Regions from separate parts of the Homo sapiens genome. Here regions 1 and 2 are each linked to region 3. Evidence: fine-mapped expression QTL. A gene starts in region 3. Each other region holds a variant in brackets. All regions are shown on one strand. Distances are from middle to middle. Region 1 overlaps TPO (thyroid peroxidase). Region 2 has its middle 39 kb from the start of TPO. Region 3 holds the start of TPO (thyroid peroxidase).

Region 1 (5,000 bases), 50 kb before region 3:
ATCAACGAATAATAGATGTTGGTGTGGATATGGTGAAAAGGGAACAACACTTCTACCCTGCTGGTAGGAATGTAAATTAGTACAACCACTGTGGAAAAACACCGTGGAGATTCCTTAAAGAACTAAAAGTAGAACTACTATTTGATCCAGCGATCCCATTCCTGGGTATCTACCCAGAGGAAAAGAAGTCATTATACGAAAAATGCATTGGCACATCCGTGTTTATAGCCGCACAATTCACAATTGCCAAACTGTGGAAGCAACCCAAATGCCCATCAATCAATGAGTGGATAAAGAAACTGTGATTTTTTATATACGATGGAATACTACTCAGCCATAAAAAGGAGTGAATTAATGGCATTTGCAGAGACCTGGTTGAGATTGGAGACTATTATTCTAAGTGAAGTAACTCAAGAATTGAAAACCAAACATTTTATGTTCTCACTCATAAGTGACACCTCAGCTATGGGGATGTAAAGGCGTAAGAATGACACAGTGGACTTTGGGGACTCAGGGGGAAAGGGTGGGAAGGGAGTGAGAGATAAAAAGCTACAAATTGTGTTCAGTGTATACTGCTTGGGTGATGGGTGCACCGAAATCTCACAAATCACCACTAAAGAACTTACTCATGTAACCAAACACCACCTGTTCTCAATAACTTATGGAAATAAAAAATTCCAACATGAACATAATTCATAACCCACTAACTCCACTTTGTAATATGTACCTAGAGATACACATTGGTGTGCATGAGGAGGCTTGCATAGCTTTGAGGTTGTCGATACATTCATAGCTACATATTTTCTGCAGTGGATGGGGGGTTTGCAGCACCCAGTGGAACATCATCGGGCTGCCTGCACCCCCACTTAGCCGAGACCAGAAGGAGCAAGGTCATGAAGAAAAGCCCAGTCCTAAAATAGAGGATGCTGCAAAGCTCTCACAGCTCCCTGGGCTGAGTGATCAGTAGTCAGAGACTCAAAACACTTTAATTTATAGTCTCGTGTAGTTGCTGGAAACATGTTTCTCTTAGGAAAACTGAATAAACATAGATATGATAAATTGTGTGGATCATTTTCTGTTTTGCTTTGGGATTCAAAAGTCCCAACTTGCTCCAAGCTCACTAAGAACTTCCACCCTCTCACTCCACCGTAAATACTCAGAGACCAAACTGGATGCTTTGAGTGTAAAGGACATCAAACATTTAAAAGCACTGATTTATGATGTGTCATCTATTGGGTTTATGGAGCTACTCCTAGAGTATACGGTATATTTTTCATCTCACTGGAGTGACTGTTAGCTCAATCACTCAACTACTGAAGGCTGCCCTGGGGATGGACAGGATCTGAATAATTGATGGACACTCTTAACTGCAAGCCAGGAGGTTCATGCCTGACACCAAGAGCCCTGGAAAGTGCCCTGGAGACCCACCCTGGGGCCTCTCCCACGTTCTCACCCACGGGCACGCAGGTGTCCTCCCTGCCAGATGTGGTCTTGCCTTTTATTTTTAAAATTGTTTACAAATAATTTTATTGTTATTTTTCTCTAAGTACAAAGATAATATATGCTCAATAATGAACATTTTGAAATAAGAAAAGTGACAAGTACAATATCATCTAAAATTTTACTAAGCTGGGCAACATTTTACCATTTCCATAATATCACTGTATAACATGATTGTCTAAAGTTGCTTGTGTTTCTCATGCTCATAGCCTGTGATCAACGTTTAAAGTTTTTCAGTATTTTGGTGATATAAACAATCGTGACAAACTAATATATTCACCCACTTTTAAGGGCAGTTTGGACATTGTCCCTAGGGAAGATTCTTGTGGTGCTGTGAATGGGCCTGATTTCATTTCATACCTTATGTCACATCGTGTCCCGAATGTATTCACCAGTTTACTTTTGCACAGCAATGCATGGATGCAAATGATTTCTCAATACCCTCAACAACACTAAATTAAAATTTCATAATTTCTTTCCAGTCTGTATGTTTAAAAACAGCATCTTGCTGTTCATTTATCTTTCATTGATATCTGTGTGTGTGTGTGTGTGTGTGTGTTTACCTACACACACGTATTTGGGTTTTCTTGTAATTTTCTTGTTCACATCGGGTGTTTATTCCATTGGGTGTTTATTTTTTTCTCATTGCTTTATAAGAGCTCTTTATAGAATGAAGATAACAATTCCTTGTGATTCCATATTTTCAAGTCGTCCCCTGAGGGTTTGCCTCTTGTCTGTGCCCTGAGTTTGTGTCCAGGGACCTTAGCGCAGAGCCCTGAGGTCTGGAGTCAGCTCCTCAGCTCCTGGGAACAAGCCCTGCAGGCTCCCCGCCTGAGATGGTCCAGCCCCTCCCCGCCTGCTGCCC[G/A]CAGCACCTGCCCCAGCCTCTCTGCCTTCAGGGTCCCACAAGCATGTGCTCCGTGTGGAAGGGAAGTGCTGTCAACCCCAGTCCTGCCCCACGAAAGACAGGCTGGCCCAGAAGAGCCAGAAGAGAAAGTTGAAATAGGGCAGAGAGACGGTACCTGGGGTGACCGGGCTCACTCTAACTGAGCCCTAAAAAGAAAGGAGGACACTGGAGAGTGACATGGCTGATGAGAGCACCCGCCTTTCCCTTGAGATCCAGTAGGGAGCCCCGAAGGAGCCAGTGCCCGGACCCCCCGGAACCTCTGCGGGGGTCTCCACGGGCATCACAGTATCCTGCTCCTCGCCACGGCCCCCCCTGCCCTCGTCCAATACACTCCTGAGTTACACAGGGTCCGCATGTCAGCAGAAGGATCCTGGAGCAGCTGTGTGCATGTGAGGTGTGTGCAGGTGTGTGTGTGGGTCTGTGTGTCATGAGCATGTATAGGTGCGTGTGCCTGTGTGCACGTGTGTGTATGGGTGTGGGTGGGTGTGCGTGTGTGTGCACAAGGGCGTGCACACAGGTGTACGGGCGGTCACGGTCACCTGTGCCTGTGAGTGTGTGCATGCCTGTGGGTATATTTATGCCCGGTGGGGCAGGGGGCCCTGGGGCCCAACTCACTTTTGCTTTTCACTCCCACTCGGGTTCTTCTGAGGAGACTTTTCTTAGGACGAAAGGCCAATTCCTCCCCTGAGGCAGGTGGAAGTCCAGTTTCCCCAGGGCCAGCCTACCCAGGCGGCACCATAGCCACAGTGCCTAGGGCCACAGGAGCAAGTGTGGTCACAAAATCTTTAACTTGCTTTAAAATCAGAAGAAAATAATAAACATTTAGGCCAAAGAACGTTTGAACCCACATTAATATATTTATCTTTATACGAACGCAGCCATCCACATAACTGAGTATTGTGGGTGGAGGAAGGAGCCTCTGGGGGCGGGTGTGTGGGGCTCACCACAACCATCACGTGACCCTGGATACCAGCAGAACGTGCCCAGGATGATGCCCTGGCCAGAGGCCCCCCAACCTCCCCCACGGTGTGTGTGGCCCTGAAGGGCTGGGCTTTTCCTGGGGTCCTTGTCTGGCCTCAGGGCTACCCGTGTCCTTCCCACCCAGATGGTGGCCCCCAACTGTCCCACCTGTCTGGACAAACATAAATTACCCCAATAGCAGCCGCAGACTTGCAAGAACAATCCCTCCTTCTTCCAAGGCTGCTTTTCACCAGCTCTTGCCCAAACCAGCGAAACTCCAGGAGATCCCCAAAGGTGGAGCCCCCACGCACAGTGATTCTCTCAGTGCAGCTCCAGGGGAGCCCAAAGGTGGAGCCCCCACCCCACTACACAGTGGTTCTCTCAGTGCAGCTCCAGGGGAGCCCAACCTCCACACAGAGTAGTTCTCTCAGTGCAGCTCCCTACCCAACGTGCTCCCTCCCTGCTGAGCTTCCCTAATCACCCCACATCCCTCTCAGAGGTCTACGCTTCCAGCAACACAGCAATAACAATACACGTTCATTGAATTCCTTCTCTGAGCCTGGTTTTGCAAATTCGATCTCATTTCATTCTAATTGCTACATTATTAGGTGGGAAATATACTCTTTTTATGGACAACAAACCTATATACATGCAGCTAATAAGTTACAAGGCCAGCCTGGGAAATATACTCTTTTTATGGACAACAAACCTATATACACGCAGATAATAAGTTACAAGGCAAGCCTGGAACCCAAGACCTGATAGATAATAGGTGCCCATCTCCACTGCTTCTCCAGGCTGCATAACTCAGTCATTTTTTTGCACAGATTCTGCTGGGGAGCCACTTAGCTGGGAACGAGGGCCTCTGCTTGGCAGACTGTTCATTGCTGAAGATACAGGTACTTCTGCAAGATCTAACAGCTCTAATGTTAACAGATGAGAACTTTGGGGTCCTGAGTGGTGAAGAATAACACTAGGGCCAGGCACAGTGGCTCATACCTGTAATCCCAGCACTTTGGGATGCCAAGGTGGGCAGATCACTTGAGTTCAGGAGTTTGAGACCAGCCTGGCCAACACGATGAAACCCCATCTCTATTAAAAATAGAAAAATTAGCCAGGCATGGTGGCGCATGCCTGTAGTCCCAGCTACTCAGGATGCTGAGGCAGGAGAATCGCTTATATCCGGGAGGCGGAGGTTGCAGTGAGCTGAGATTGCGCCACTACACTCCAGCCTGGGCAAGACTCCAGCTCAAAAAAAAAAAAAAAGAAAGAAAGAATCCCAGGTTAGAGGTACATGCAGCAGGGAACACATGCAGGGGGCCGCCCTGGTGAGGGGGCTCTGCAGAGAAGAGCAAGGGGCCCCCTGTCTCCCAGGGTCTGAGCCCCAGCGTGTGAGAGAGAGAGACCTCCTCCCAGGGACAGAGGCTGGACCTGGCTGAAATTCAGTTTCTATGATTGACACAGTCTTTATGGTGCTCCTTTTCCACCTTTCCCCCAATATTATTCCTTTTGGGATATTTTGTTTAGATGTCTTGATTTTGCCCACTGGGACCTCCTCTGCAGATGCCCAGAATTTTGTAACTGCTGGTTTATGTAACTGTCCTGCCCACCTTCCAGGGACCAGCCTGTCTTCCTT
Region 2 (6,291 bases), 38 kb after region 3:
CCAGGCAGGGCAGACTCACAGCCTGGTCCCTGGGTCCTGCCCTTGTCCTTCAAAGACTCTGTCTGGGTTCATTTTGAGCTCTTGTGAAGGTGCAGAAAATTCCTCTCCATAAACAGAGAAGCCTGGCTCCTCACTTCTGCTTCTGAGCCACGGCGAGGTAAGGGTTTCCTGAGAGCACAGAAATCTCCAGAATCTCCTCGAGGCTAACTTTTGAAAATGCCTTTCATAAAACTGTGACAGCAATCACAAAAGGGCCATGGCTCCCTGTATTATCCTTGTAGGGCTTTTGAAATCTACCAGAATAATCCGTGAGAGAAAGACCGTATTCCAATGCATACGACTTTCTTCTGTGTAAGTCAAGCTGAAAAATAACCAGAGGTGCTGATCTAAAGGCAGCAGGAAGACTGGTTTACCCGAAGGACACACTGTGGAGCTTCTTTCTGCTTTGCATTTACTTTGAATTCCAGTTTTAAAGGAACAGTTTATTAAGGGAGAAAACATTTTTATCACAAAAATTAAATATTATTTAAGTGGCCGAGCTCTGACTCTGGTGTAAATTCACCAGTGGGAGCCAATAAAATATACATCCTTTTCCCTAGCCAAATTCCATATTATCTATTTTGTCTTTGCCAAATATAAAGTAATTTTTAAGTAAAGCCCTGACCAAAAGCTGTCTTCACTGGTTTTTAATATCATTGTTATCCTGCCAGTGCCCTTGGGAATTTTACTTTTTTTAGATATATGAATTTGGTCTTCCTTTCACTACCAGAATTATTTACATTTGTTTAGCTTTTAAAACAACATCATTCTGTTGTTTTACTTTTTGTTAAAGAATATTACTTTTTGTTTGAGAATATCACTTTTTGTTAAGTGTCTTTACTTTTCTTTCACAGGAGAAAGGGGTGGTGTGAAGGGTGCTCGGTCATGGGTCTGGGAGGTGGAGGGTGAATCTCCTGCCCTGCCTCATCCGTGTGGACTGGACTGGGGGTGCTGTTCAGACCAGGCTCTCTCCTCCACTATCAGCACTGCCCTGGGCACCATCAGGAACAGCCTCAGCCCCACGCTGGTGCTCCCGCGAATGCCCCGTGTAATCACCACGGGTGATGTTGAGACCACGCCTCACTTCAGAAGGCTCATCATAACAAGCAAAAATGTCACTTTGGATCAATGGCTAAGTGGAAATTGAATCTCTATGAATACTACAAAATAGTTTCTTCATAACGTATTTAACAAATCAAAGAAACTTTTAGGAACCTCCCTAAACCATTGTTTAAAAGAGCAAAATGTCTGGTCAATCCAGTTCACATCAACGCATGTGGGAGCTTTCACTGGAAAGGAATAAAGACAGAGGAGACACTCTGAGTCTCAGTTTCAGAGCGAGACATTTGCATGGCCCTGGTTCCTGGGGCAGGCAGTGCAGTGATGGCGGGTTTTATACCCATTAGCTCTACAATGGATAATTTGGATTTACGAAGAAAATACTGAGATTGCTAACTCCTCGGAGGAACAGATGGTGCCGCGCTCATCTTTATTTACAGGAATTACCACGATGCACGTGCTGGGTGTCCCATGTCCAGCAAACGCAGCCTGCAGCAGCTGGGCTGCAGGTGTGGGGCGTGGCACCCTGAAGAGGAACCCGTTGTGCTGGATGAAGCACTGTCATTCCCTCATGCATAGCATTAGAGAAACGTTCGTTGTGCGTGACTAGAAAAATCCTCCTGTCTTCCCACCTCTGGTGTCTCAAACAAAGGAATCAGAGATTCGCAGTGAGGAGGTGGCTTCCCCAAAAACCAGAACTAGAGTTTAGAATCAGAGGCCTGAGCAATGCCTGCAGGGTTGGAAATGAGGGTGCTCAGGACATGTTTCATAAGGACGATGTAGACACGGTGAAGGAAACACACTCTCAAGACCCCAAACTCACGATGCCACAGGGAAGGTTAAGCTTGGGACCCGCGTCACACAAAACTGCCTCCCTTTTATTCCCAAACAGGCAGCTGTGATTTCCAGGGCTTACCTTATCGTGTGTAAAACGTGGATTCACTAGCGCTAATCAGAGGCCCACGAGATTGCGGCCACATGCCTGACTGTGCCCCACTGCCTGCCCTCCCTCTTTTTCCTTCTCCCCTCCTGCTCGCTCTTTCCCCTTTAAAGTTCCCAAAACCCTCTTTGGAAAAGGCTCGGGTCACAGGTCCCACTGGGACTTGTGTTTGTTTTTTCCGGGCACATTCTCAATCTTAGCAACATAAACTTCTAATTGACTGAGATCTGCTTCGGTCACTTTTTGGCTTACAATACTGTAAACCAAAATAAATCCTCCCTTTCACGACCAAGGTGAGTTTCCCAGTTCACCAGTTTCCTATGCCAGTGTAGGTCTGAGTCGAGCCCATCTCTCCTATCGTCTGCCTAACCAACATGATTTTTCAGCCCTAAGCAATGCGTGGTCAAAGTAATTTAATGCAATTTTCTTCATGCTTTTTTTTCCCTTTTTAAATTTTAAAAACTTAAAAAAAAATTAAAAACTCTTTAATCAACATTTTCAGTTTTTCTATTCTTAAATATCTGTTGAAAAGGTATATCTATGGTCGGGTGCAGTGGTTCATGCCTGTAATCCCAACACTTTGGGAGGCCAAGGTGGGTAGATGACGAGTTCAGGAGATCGAGACCATCCTGGCTAACACAGTGAAACCCCGTCTCTACTAAAAATACAAAAAAAATTTAGCTGGGCGTGGTGGCGGGTGCCTGTAGTCCCAGCTACTTGGGAGGTTGAGGCAGGAGAATCGCCTGAACCAGGAGGCGGAGGGTACAGTGGGCCGAGATCGAGCCATTGCACTCCAGCCTGGGTGACAGAGCAAGACGTCATCTCAGTAAAAAAAAAAAAAAAAAGAAAGAAAGAAAGAAAAGATTTCTCTATAAATTACAGGGCTCATGTTTTCTGGTGTGATGTTCTTTTCAAATAAATCCTCATTAACATTTTTGCAGAAATGGTTTCAAATTTTGTCAGTTAAAACTTAGAACCCGAAAGGGGCAAACACATGCTTGTCCTGGAAAGAAGAAATTAAACACAGTGACCACGGTTTCTATGACTTATTAAGTTTGTAACACAGCTGGGAAACTCATTATCCCTGTGTGTATGACAACAAAAGATTAACTTGCTCAAAAATTCAGCCCGTTCAGTAAAAAGGAAAAGGAAAACACAGAGATCCTACCAGGTGGACGGTGGGTAGTGGGCCGCCAAGGTGCTGACTGACGGAGCCCTTTCTGAGTGAAGGGCCCGGTGTCTCACGGTGAGGCTGGGGTCAAGGAAGGATTCCGGCACCGACCGAAGGCAGGGTCTGAGCTGGGTGCGTGTTTCCAGCCCATTGCCTTCAATCCTTGTAGCAACAATCATTGCATTTCCAGCAGGCTGGGTAAAAAAGATTTCCATCTGAATTATCTTTCCTTATAA[T/C]CTCGTGAAGAGGAGACCATGGCTGAGGGCTTCATCCAGAGGGAAGTGGCCACAGAGGTGAACTGCAGACTTGGCCGCCGTGACCATCTCTCTTGTTTGTTTCTGAGTGTGCAAGGCGTTTCTCCAGGATTTCCCCTCAATTTAAGGGAGGCGAGTGCAGGTTTTGTCTGTTTGCTCACGCGGCCTTTCCAGCTCTCGGATACTTGTTGGCCGGGGGCAAGTCTTCCTCTCATGGCCCAGATGGAAGTCATTGTGAAGTAGGTCCCTTTTCCCCGCCCACCATGGAATCAGCCACGGGGCTGATCTGAGATGCCAGCTGGGGAGAAAACTACGGTTCTGCTGGGAATTCTCAACGTGATTCACCTGTGTGTCCTCAGTGTGAACCACTGGCTGATGCAGGGAGAGCGGAGAGACTGTGGGAGGGGCGGCAGTGGACTTGTTTTCCCATGAGGCTTATTTCAGACGGCTTTTAAATACCGTTCTTCTTCCCAACGGACACAGGCACTTTTAGATCTGCCATGGGGCAAGAACTGCTGTTTACAACACTCAGCATGTTAGTTCTGAAACTGAAATGGCCCATCAAGATAGGTTTCAGGTAGCAGCTTATCTTTTACAATATCATCTACAGTTGGCTTAAGTATTTTGAAGCTACATATATTCATCTTAAAACTGTTTCAACTTTTTCTTCACCACAAACAACTGTATTTTAGTTTGCGTATTGTAATACCTCTGGGCCTGGAGCTTGGACTGTCCATGGACCTTTGAAGTTAAAGGCATAGGAAAAGATGCTGAGGCTGTGCCCTGGATGGGGGATCATTCCCACAATGGTAAAACTGCCACCCACACTTTCCTGTGTTTGAGTTTTCTGTGACATTTCATTATTATATACCCTGCACAAAGTAGGTATTCATCTATCTGTGCTTTTAAAAAGATTGTCCTGTTGGAAAAGATTTGGGGTAACCTGAATTTCGAAGAGTCATGTAGTCCGTCTTATGCTACGTCCCACCCAGACTCACACAGTTTCACAGAGAAAAAAATGACATAGTAGAGATAGTGTGTAGGATACATGTATAAGGTCAGTTATATTTATTCTATCCCGTGTTTATACCCAAACTCCCATATGTACACTCTATTAATAGTGAGAAAGAGTATTGACTCTGAGTTTTAAGATTAAAAACACAAAAAACCCATTATAATATAATCCAGTTTATGGAAATTCTGCTAAGGTGGCAAAATTACTGTGCACTTTGTACAGATTGTCCAGAGGGGTGTACAGCAGGATAGCTTCCTACCTGCTCTATGAAAACCCTAGTTCCTGACATGTGCTGTGGAGTTGTGTTTTAAAGGAAGCACCTGATACAAAACTGACCACCTGTTGGGAACCAGTGTGTCAGTGTCCTTCTTGAAACATGGCTCCCAGAACAAAAGTCCACGTTTCCTGTGTGAACTGACCGGTTCTGGGTGCATGGCGAGGGGCAAGCCATTGTCTGCCCATCTTCCTTCACGGTGAGCACCAGAATGACATCGGCGTTTTCAGCAGCTATGTGCCATGGCTTATCCCAGCCTGTGAGCTGCCCATCCATCCAAGGTGCCCATCCACCCAAGCTGCCCATCCACCCAAGCTGCCCATCCATCCAAGCTGCCCATCCACCCAAGGCCGTGGCTGCAGCACCTGTCACAGTGCCTGGTCCCCGGGTTAATGCTCTACAAATACTTGTTGAATGGATCAAAAACACTTTCACCTAAATGTTCCACATGCTTCTCCCAACAGCTACTGTTTGGGAGACCGGGCTCCCCTTGAATCTTTTCTTTTTTAAAATTCAATGATAGTACTTTCTTCTCTAAAACATCGATTGTGTTAGTTTATCCCAGGGTTTTAACCTGTTAAGGGCTTTACAAAGTGTTAATTTTGTACTTCAGCATATGCCGCCTCTGGGTCTCTGACTTAGCCATGCTCCTGACGATGTGCCAGGCATGTCTTCATTTTCCACCGTAACCTGCATTTTCTGTGTGTACTTCTCCAGCTTGCTGATAGGGAGTGCTTGCAAGCGCTTCACTGAAATGAGGAACTTATGTTTCTAAGCCCGCGTCTATCGGGGCCTTTTTCACAGATAGAAAGTGCTTTTCCTTAGGGAAATGGTGCTGCCTGTGAATGCTTCCTGCTGCTTTTCTAGCGTGTGTGCACAGATTCCATTCATAACTTCAGGAGGCACCTGGTTGCATGGATAAGGACACCCTTAGAGATGGCAGGCACCGGCTCAAATCTCAAAACCCACTTTTCCTGGTTTGCTGAGAACTTCCTCCCAGATTTCTCACCTGATGCCCATAATGAGGTTGTGAGGGGGTGAAGAACAGGGATTGTGACTTTTTCTATTCCATATATGAGCAAAAGAGTTAAACATGGTAAATTCTTCACACGGGTTTAAACTTGCTTGTGGTCACCTCAGAAAGGACACAGAGTTCTCCCAACTCCTAAGCCAACAGTCTTCCAAGCCTTGGCTCCTCTGGTTTTGACAGCCAGTGTGCTGACAACTGTATTTAAAAGTCAGGTCGGAAACCTGTGGGGATTGTGGGCATCGGGGGAGGGGTTATGTACCCTCCACCTGTCTATCTCTTGTCCCAAACACTGAAAGCAGCAAACCAGAACAACATGGAAATGTTCTCCATCTTATATCTGTTTTGAAAAATCCTGTCCTAAGTTTTATCTGTCTGAATGGACAATAATCAAATGGTCCCTCCACCAGCAAGGGCAGGGCAGGATTCGTGGTTATACATTTATGAGAAGCTGTCAGCAAATCAGAAGAGCTGAACATCAGTTCCCAAGAACTATGGGCCCGGAGGGGTAA
Region 3 (6,209 bases):
AGAGGCCCAGGGACCTGCCCGGTGAGCTGTCACCTGCTCCAGGGGCCCCGAGACTGTGTCCAGAGGCCCAGGGACCTGCCCGGCGAAGTGTCACCTGCTCCAGGGGCCCCGGGACTGTGTGCAGAGGCCCAGGGACCTGCCCAGTGAGGTGTCACCTGCTCCAGGGGCCCCGGGACTGTGTCCAGAGGCCCAGGGACCTGCCCGGTGAGGTGTCACCTGCTCCAGGGGCCCCGGGACTGTGTGCAGAGGCCCAGGGACCTGCCCGGCGAGGTGTCACCTGCTCCAGGGGCCCTGGGACTGTGTCCAGAGGCCCAGGGACCTGCCCGGCGAGGTGTCACCTGCTCCAGGGGCCCCGGGACTGTGTGCAGAGGCCCAGGGACCTGCCCAGCGAGGTGTCACCTGCTCCCGGGGCCAGCGGTGTCCATGGGGTAAAATGTCCAGGCAAATGCCCCTGCAGTATTCACTCCAGTGAAACTTGTTCTCAGGGTTTGGAACTTTATTTATTTTATTAAAAGAAAAGCAAAGAGCTTGATCTGTGATTATTTTAACCACTGCATCTCAGTAGCTTTCTTAACTTGTTTTCACATAGTAGCACACTGATTCCAGAAAATACATCACAGAAGTTATTTAATAAAAAATAATTCTGTAGCAAAGGAAGAAAAACACTCCCAAAGAATTTTTTTTTCAGTTATATGAATAGGTAAAAGTGAAAATTGTCTATTGTGTCATCCAAGGAAAATCAGCTCTTTTTTAAAGAAAGAAATGTACATATTTCAATCCTTCTAAAATCAAGAATTACAATTTTTTTTTCTTAAGCATAACAAAGCATACACTACAGGGGCCTAAAGTGACTCTCAGGAGCTACCATTATGCCCTCTATTTTAGTAAGTGTGAAAAATAACTTTATAAGGCCAGAAGACCGCAATGTGTTTGCTACTTACCCCAAAGGAGTTCTTTCCCTCTCGAGATGAAGGGGAAGAAGGCTTCTGTGCAGGCCATAACCAGCGTGACAGACAGCACAGCGAGCGCTCTCATTCTAAAATTAACGGAAGGAGACAGAGTATGTAATCAAGCACTGACAAGGCCATGGGAACCGCTGTGTCCTTGTCTCCCTGCTGAGGGGCTCCCTCCACTGACTCCACGCAGCCTCTACCGCAGTGAGCGACCCTCACAGGCCTGGGGTCTGCGAGACCAGAGTCGCCGTCCATGTCAGGAGGTTACAGAAACTGCAGCGCTGAGCAGGCCTCCCAGGCCCCCATTATTCAAAAACAGAGTTTTTATGTTGGCAGCTCCAGTTGCCAATATATCTCAGTAATAACCTATTTAAATTTTTGGTAATGTCAAATAGTGTAACAGTACTGGGAATAATTATTGGGAATGAAAAAAATCTGTTTCCCCTAATGCATCTATGTGGCAAAAAGTGAGTACTATTAGAAATTTAGTCTTTATAAAAGTGATAAATAAAACCCCTAAATGCCTATTGAATTTCTTAAAGCATTCTTATGTCCATAAAATGATTTTAGAATTCTAGTTGTTAAGACAAAACAGAAGATTCAAAATTCATCATTTCTACTTTCAAATCCTTGTTTTCTTCTCTTAGGCTTTCTGTGGCTATTTTTGAGCCACTAATTTTGTTAAGCAGGATAGCACCAGTGAGTCCATGCTGACAGGAATGTGTCTCAGTAGACGGTGATCTAGGAATCGACCCTACAGGACTCACATGTTCCAGCGGAGGTCATTGCAAACAGCACTCATCAGTCAGTCAGTCAGCTTTGCTGAGAGACGCCACCCATACCTGCTATAATGGCCCAAATTACAGCCACTCTTGGGCCACTTTACAAGTTCCAATGATGAATTTCTCTTAGAAAATGGAAAAATAAAAAGCTTTACAACCTGACCTTTTTTCCTCTTCTCAGCCAACTGCACTGCTGAGTAATTTTCACGGCTGTAACTCTTCTGAAATGGGCGCCTTAATTGCCTTCCAGGGACTTGGTTACCCACCTTATAAACTGACTCCGCGCTTGGATAGCCCGTCAAGATGCTAGGAAGTCGAGTGGCGTCCGTTCTTCGTGGGGACAGAATGTCTGCGGGCTTTGTTGTGTTTGCGCCGGGCCTCTTGTGTGTCCTGACTGGTCAGAAACAAAGTGCCATGTCATCGGGGTCCACATGCAGTCCAGCCTCTGGCCGAATGAGTTAGGAAGAAGAGGGGAAAAATTATACAGGGAGAAAGAATAAACCAACTAAATCCAGACTTGTGACACTTGCATTTTCCTCCCTCTTACTTTCACAGTTAAATACCCTGTGAAAAAGGGGCTGTTAATCTTCCGAGGATTGGGTTGGGTGCAGCTCCCAGGCCCACCGATGACTCGCTCTACAACTCTGAGCCTTTTGCTTCCTGTCCCCAAGCCCCTAGTTTTCTTATCACTAAGAGGTGAATAAAGTACACTTTTTTCCAATTTGTTGAGGTGAAAAATGAGCACAGTTCAGTGTGTGTTCACCAGCATGCATTCTCCCCTCAATCCTCATCATGCACCCATCAAAAGAGTCCCCACAAAGACAGAGATGTTCTGTAGGAAGGTCACCATGACTGCATTCCGAACACTGGGAGATGACATGTTTTCATGGGTGATCTGCTTTCAGGCTGTATCTCATCATGAAAATGATAAAATAACACATCTTCAATGACCTGCTCCTGAGACTTGGAGCCTCTTCATGCCCCCGGAAGTCCTATGGGTTTCTAGTTTGTGAAAATCATCTTCATCTTTCTCCTTTTCTTTCCCTTCTCCAAATGTGACTGATGCTTCCTCTAGGTAATTTGAAACCAAATGCTAAAACACGATGCAAAGGCTTCAGAACATTAATCTTTGTTAGAAGATGTTCTGAAGCCCAAGAATGTGATGATTTGCCTTTAACATTCTCCCCTCAATCCTCATCACTCACCCCTCAAATGGGTGAAGATAACAAATGAGTTAGACAAGCTCTGAAGAGCAGGGAGGAGATCAGCCAACAGTGATATAATCCCCCCACGCACCCTGAGAATGGTCACTAGGAGGGTGGGGTTTGGATAGAGAGGAAGGACCAGACTCGGTGGCTCATTAAAGAGGATTCCATGGCTCAATGATGAGTTACTGTTGGGAACAGAAGAAAAGCACAGAGCCTCTGAGGATTCAGCCATCCTCGGTTTGATGCCTAAGCAAGTGAAAATCTCATGTACTGGCCCTAGGAAGGCCAGAGAAGAAAGGAGACTGGCTGTGACAAGCAAAGGAGCAGCAGACTCAGGCTTGGAATTGTGTTGGAGGTGCCCGTGGCACAGGCGGGCAGTGAGCTCTTGGGCATTTGGAAATGTACTTTCAGCTGTTGGGTGAAGTCCAGCTTAAAAAGACACATTTGGGAGTCCTGAGGGGGGATACAGTAGTGGACTGTGAGTGAATGGGATTCTTCTTGGGAGAATGTGGATGGAAAAGACCTCAAGAGTAGCTCAGAGCACCAGCGTCTAGGGGACACAGTCCCCCAGCCTGTGACTGCAACCTGCATGGCAAAAGGGGCTTTGCAGATGGGATTCAGTTAAGATTTTGAGGAGGGGAGATTAGCCTGGATTATCCACTGGCCTTAGTGTTAGCACACAGCTCCTTACAAGACAAAGGTGGGAAAGTCTGAGGGGAGAAAGGGGGAAGTGATGATGGAAACTGAGACTGGAGGGCCGTGGCCATGAGCCTCCAGAAACTGGAGGAGGCCAGGAGCAGGGCCTCTGGGGTCTCCAGGCACAACCAGGCCTGTCCCTGGACCTTGCTGCCAAAAGTCTCATTTGGATCTATGACCTCCGGAGCTGATGGAGTAAAGCCACTAAGCACGTGGCCCTTTGTTAAGGCATTCGCAGGAAATTCACACAGCCAGAAAGGTGGGTGGTAAAATGAGACAGCGTGGGGCAAATACTCAAGGAAGAGTTTGAAGAAGAAAGCATTAAAATGTAAAGTAAATACTGACTGGATGCTCTTTTCATCACAGAAGGACGCTTGAAAATGCCGAGTGCCGATGGAGACCTGGGAAGAGGGGGTTTGCATGCACAGCTGGGGGAGGCCGAGCCGGCACATCAACTCTCCAGGTCGTTTTGTAGCCTCTCCTCTAAGTTGCTGTTACCATTTGACCCCGCACAAATATGAGAAATGTATCTATCATTTGAAAATACATATTTTAGCTGGATTACATGATGTGCTTATTTTAATACTAATTAAACAATATAAATAATGCATCAAGTACAATGGAAGCTGTTACACTGGAAATGTTGAGAGGGGAGCGGAGAAAAGTCTGAGAATGGCGGGTTTGCAGGAGGCCCACTGGATAGCACACACATTTTTGAGAAAGAAGACGGGGGACTTGGGAAGGAAGATTTCTGCAGGGGGACGTGGAAAACCCGAGGCTATCACATAATGGGAGAATGAAAGAGAGGCAACTAAAGATCTGGCTGAAGCCCCCAGTCTCTGTCAGAAAGGAGCATTGGGAAGACGTGGCCACCCAGCAATGGAGAGCAGAGAGATTGCAGGGGAGACTCAGTGAGAAAGAGGACAGTTTTAGCCATGAGAAGGAAAGAAAAAAATACACGTCTTCTCCCATTATGAGAAAAATCAAGGAGCTCCAAAGAAGACAGAAATCTGCAAGGAACGCATGATACAGTAAGAAGCCAACTCACACATGGCAGGATGGGGGAATGCAGGGCCCTGCTACAAGCAGGTCTCAGTGAAGGAGTGGCACCAGCCCTGCGGTCCAGTCCCGGGCCCACCGAGAAGACAAGCACGCTTCCATTTTTTGGCAAGTGCCAATGAACTATTTGATATCCTGGGGAAATCTGATTACTGAATACCTTGATCAATGCATGAGAAACAGCAAATCACACATTTTGCTTGATGTCTCCATAGAAAGGCCACCTTTCTCCCTGCAGACATCGTGTGTTCTGTCCACAGACAAGAGGCTCTCCCTAACCGAGGCCCAGGACCACCTGTAATAGGCCCTTGCCTGTGACTGTAACAGAAAAGGGATCCAGGGTGGGCTCACACTTGACTCACCTGACATGTGGCCAGGGCCTGACTGCCTTGTGTTCTTCAAACTACAGCCTGATGTTGCCTTTTTTACTTGCCATTCACTTTTTAGTTTTTGTTTTCCTCGCCCCCAGCTTCATCAAGCTATCATTAACAAATACAAATTATACATATTTATGTTCACATGATGTTTTCATACATGTAAACACTGTGGGGTGATTAAATCAAGCTAATTAACATATACAGCACCTCACGTATTCATCCTTTTGTGTGTGTGATAGGAACATTTAATATCTATTCTCCTAGCGATTTTCAAATAAACAATAGTCATCAAGCTATACATTAGATCCCAGAACATTTTTATCCTGCAACTGAAACCCTCACTTTTGACCAGCATCTTTCTGCCCCTCACGGCACCTGTCCCCCCCATGGCACCAGCCCCCACCACACCTGCCCCCCACCGCACCTGCCCCGTAACCCTAGGTGTCCACCATCCACTCTCTGCTTCCATGAGCTCGACACTTTTAGATTCCATATAGGAGGGAGATCATGAGGTGTTTGTCTTTTGGTGCCTGGCTTGTGTGTGTATGTGCACGTGCATGTGTGTGTGTGTGTGCGCGCACTGTTTTTTGTATTTTTAAATTTGTAAGTTTATTTTTTAAGAGATGAACATGGATGAGAGGAGACTCAGGGACCTGATGACCCCCGACGGCCGTGGGCTGCACAGTGCCAGGACTGGATCCTGGAAGAGGAAAGGATGCAGATGGAAAAGCTGGGGATACCAGGGTGAGCTCTGAGATGTAATCACCAGCATTGGATCCACGTCCACTCCCTGGTCCTGGTTGCTGTGCTGTGGCCGTGCATAGAGTTAACACTGAGCAGGTGGGTGAAGGAGGTTTGGGAGCTCTGTGTTATCTTCCAACTCTTATTACAGCTCAATTCATTTTAAAACAAATTTGGAAAATAAAATGCTGTCATTCAAACTTAATTAAATTCCCCTGTAAAATTTGAAAAATTATTCAGCTTTGTTCAAACTCAGGTAGGTAATTTCCCAGTTTATATGAGTCAGATAAAACTAAAGACAAATACAGGAGGGTTTTTGTTAATTGAAATTCAGGAAATAAACATGGGGCTCTCTCACACCACAAAAAGCTCCACATTCAGCAGTAACCATTT

The links.
Region 1: its variant is fine-mapped to the expression of TPO in visceral fat (GTEx, PIP 0.92).
Region 2: its variant is fine-mapped to the expression of TPO in tibial nerve (GTEx, PIP 0.99).

The regions. Positions count from the first base shown.
Region 1 is chr2:1,459,577-1,464,576 of GRCh38, reverse strand. All of the region lies in intron 7 of TPO (thyroid peroxidase), which reads right to left. Among named protein-coding and RNA genes, the nearest start is that of TPO, 49 kb to the right of the region's middle. The variant G/A (reference allele first, on the strand shown) is at 2,366.
Region 2 is chr2:1,371,318-1,377,608 of GRCh38, reverse strand. It overlaps a transcript of TPO not described here. Among named protein-coding and RNA genes, the nearest start is that of TPO, 39 kb to the left of the region's middle. The variant T/C (reference allele first, on the strand shown) is at 3,446.
Region 3 is chr2:1,409,235-1,415,443 of GRCh38, reverse strand. It overlaps TPO (thyroid peroxidase), which reads right to left and starts at 1,981. Exons shown (of 17, transcript NM_001206744.2): 1 at 1,899-1,981; 2 at 942-1,036. The coding sequence starts at 1,035.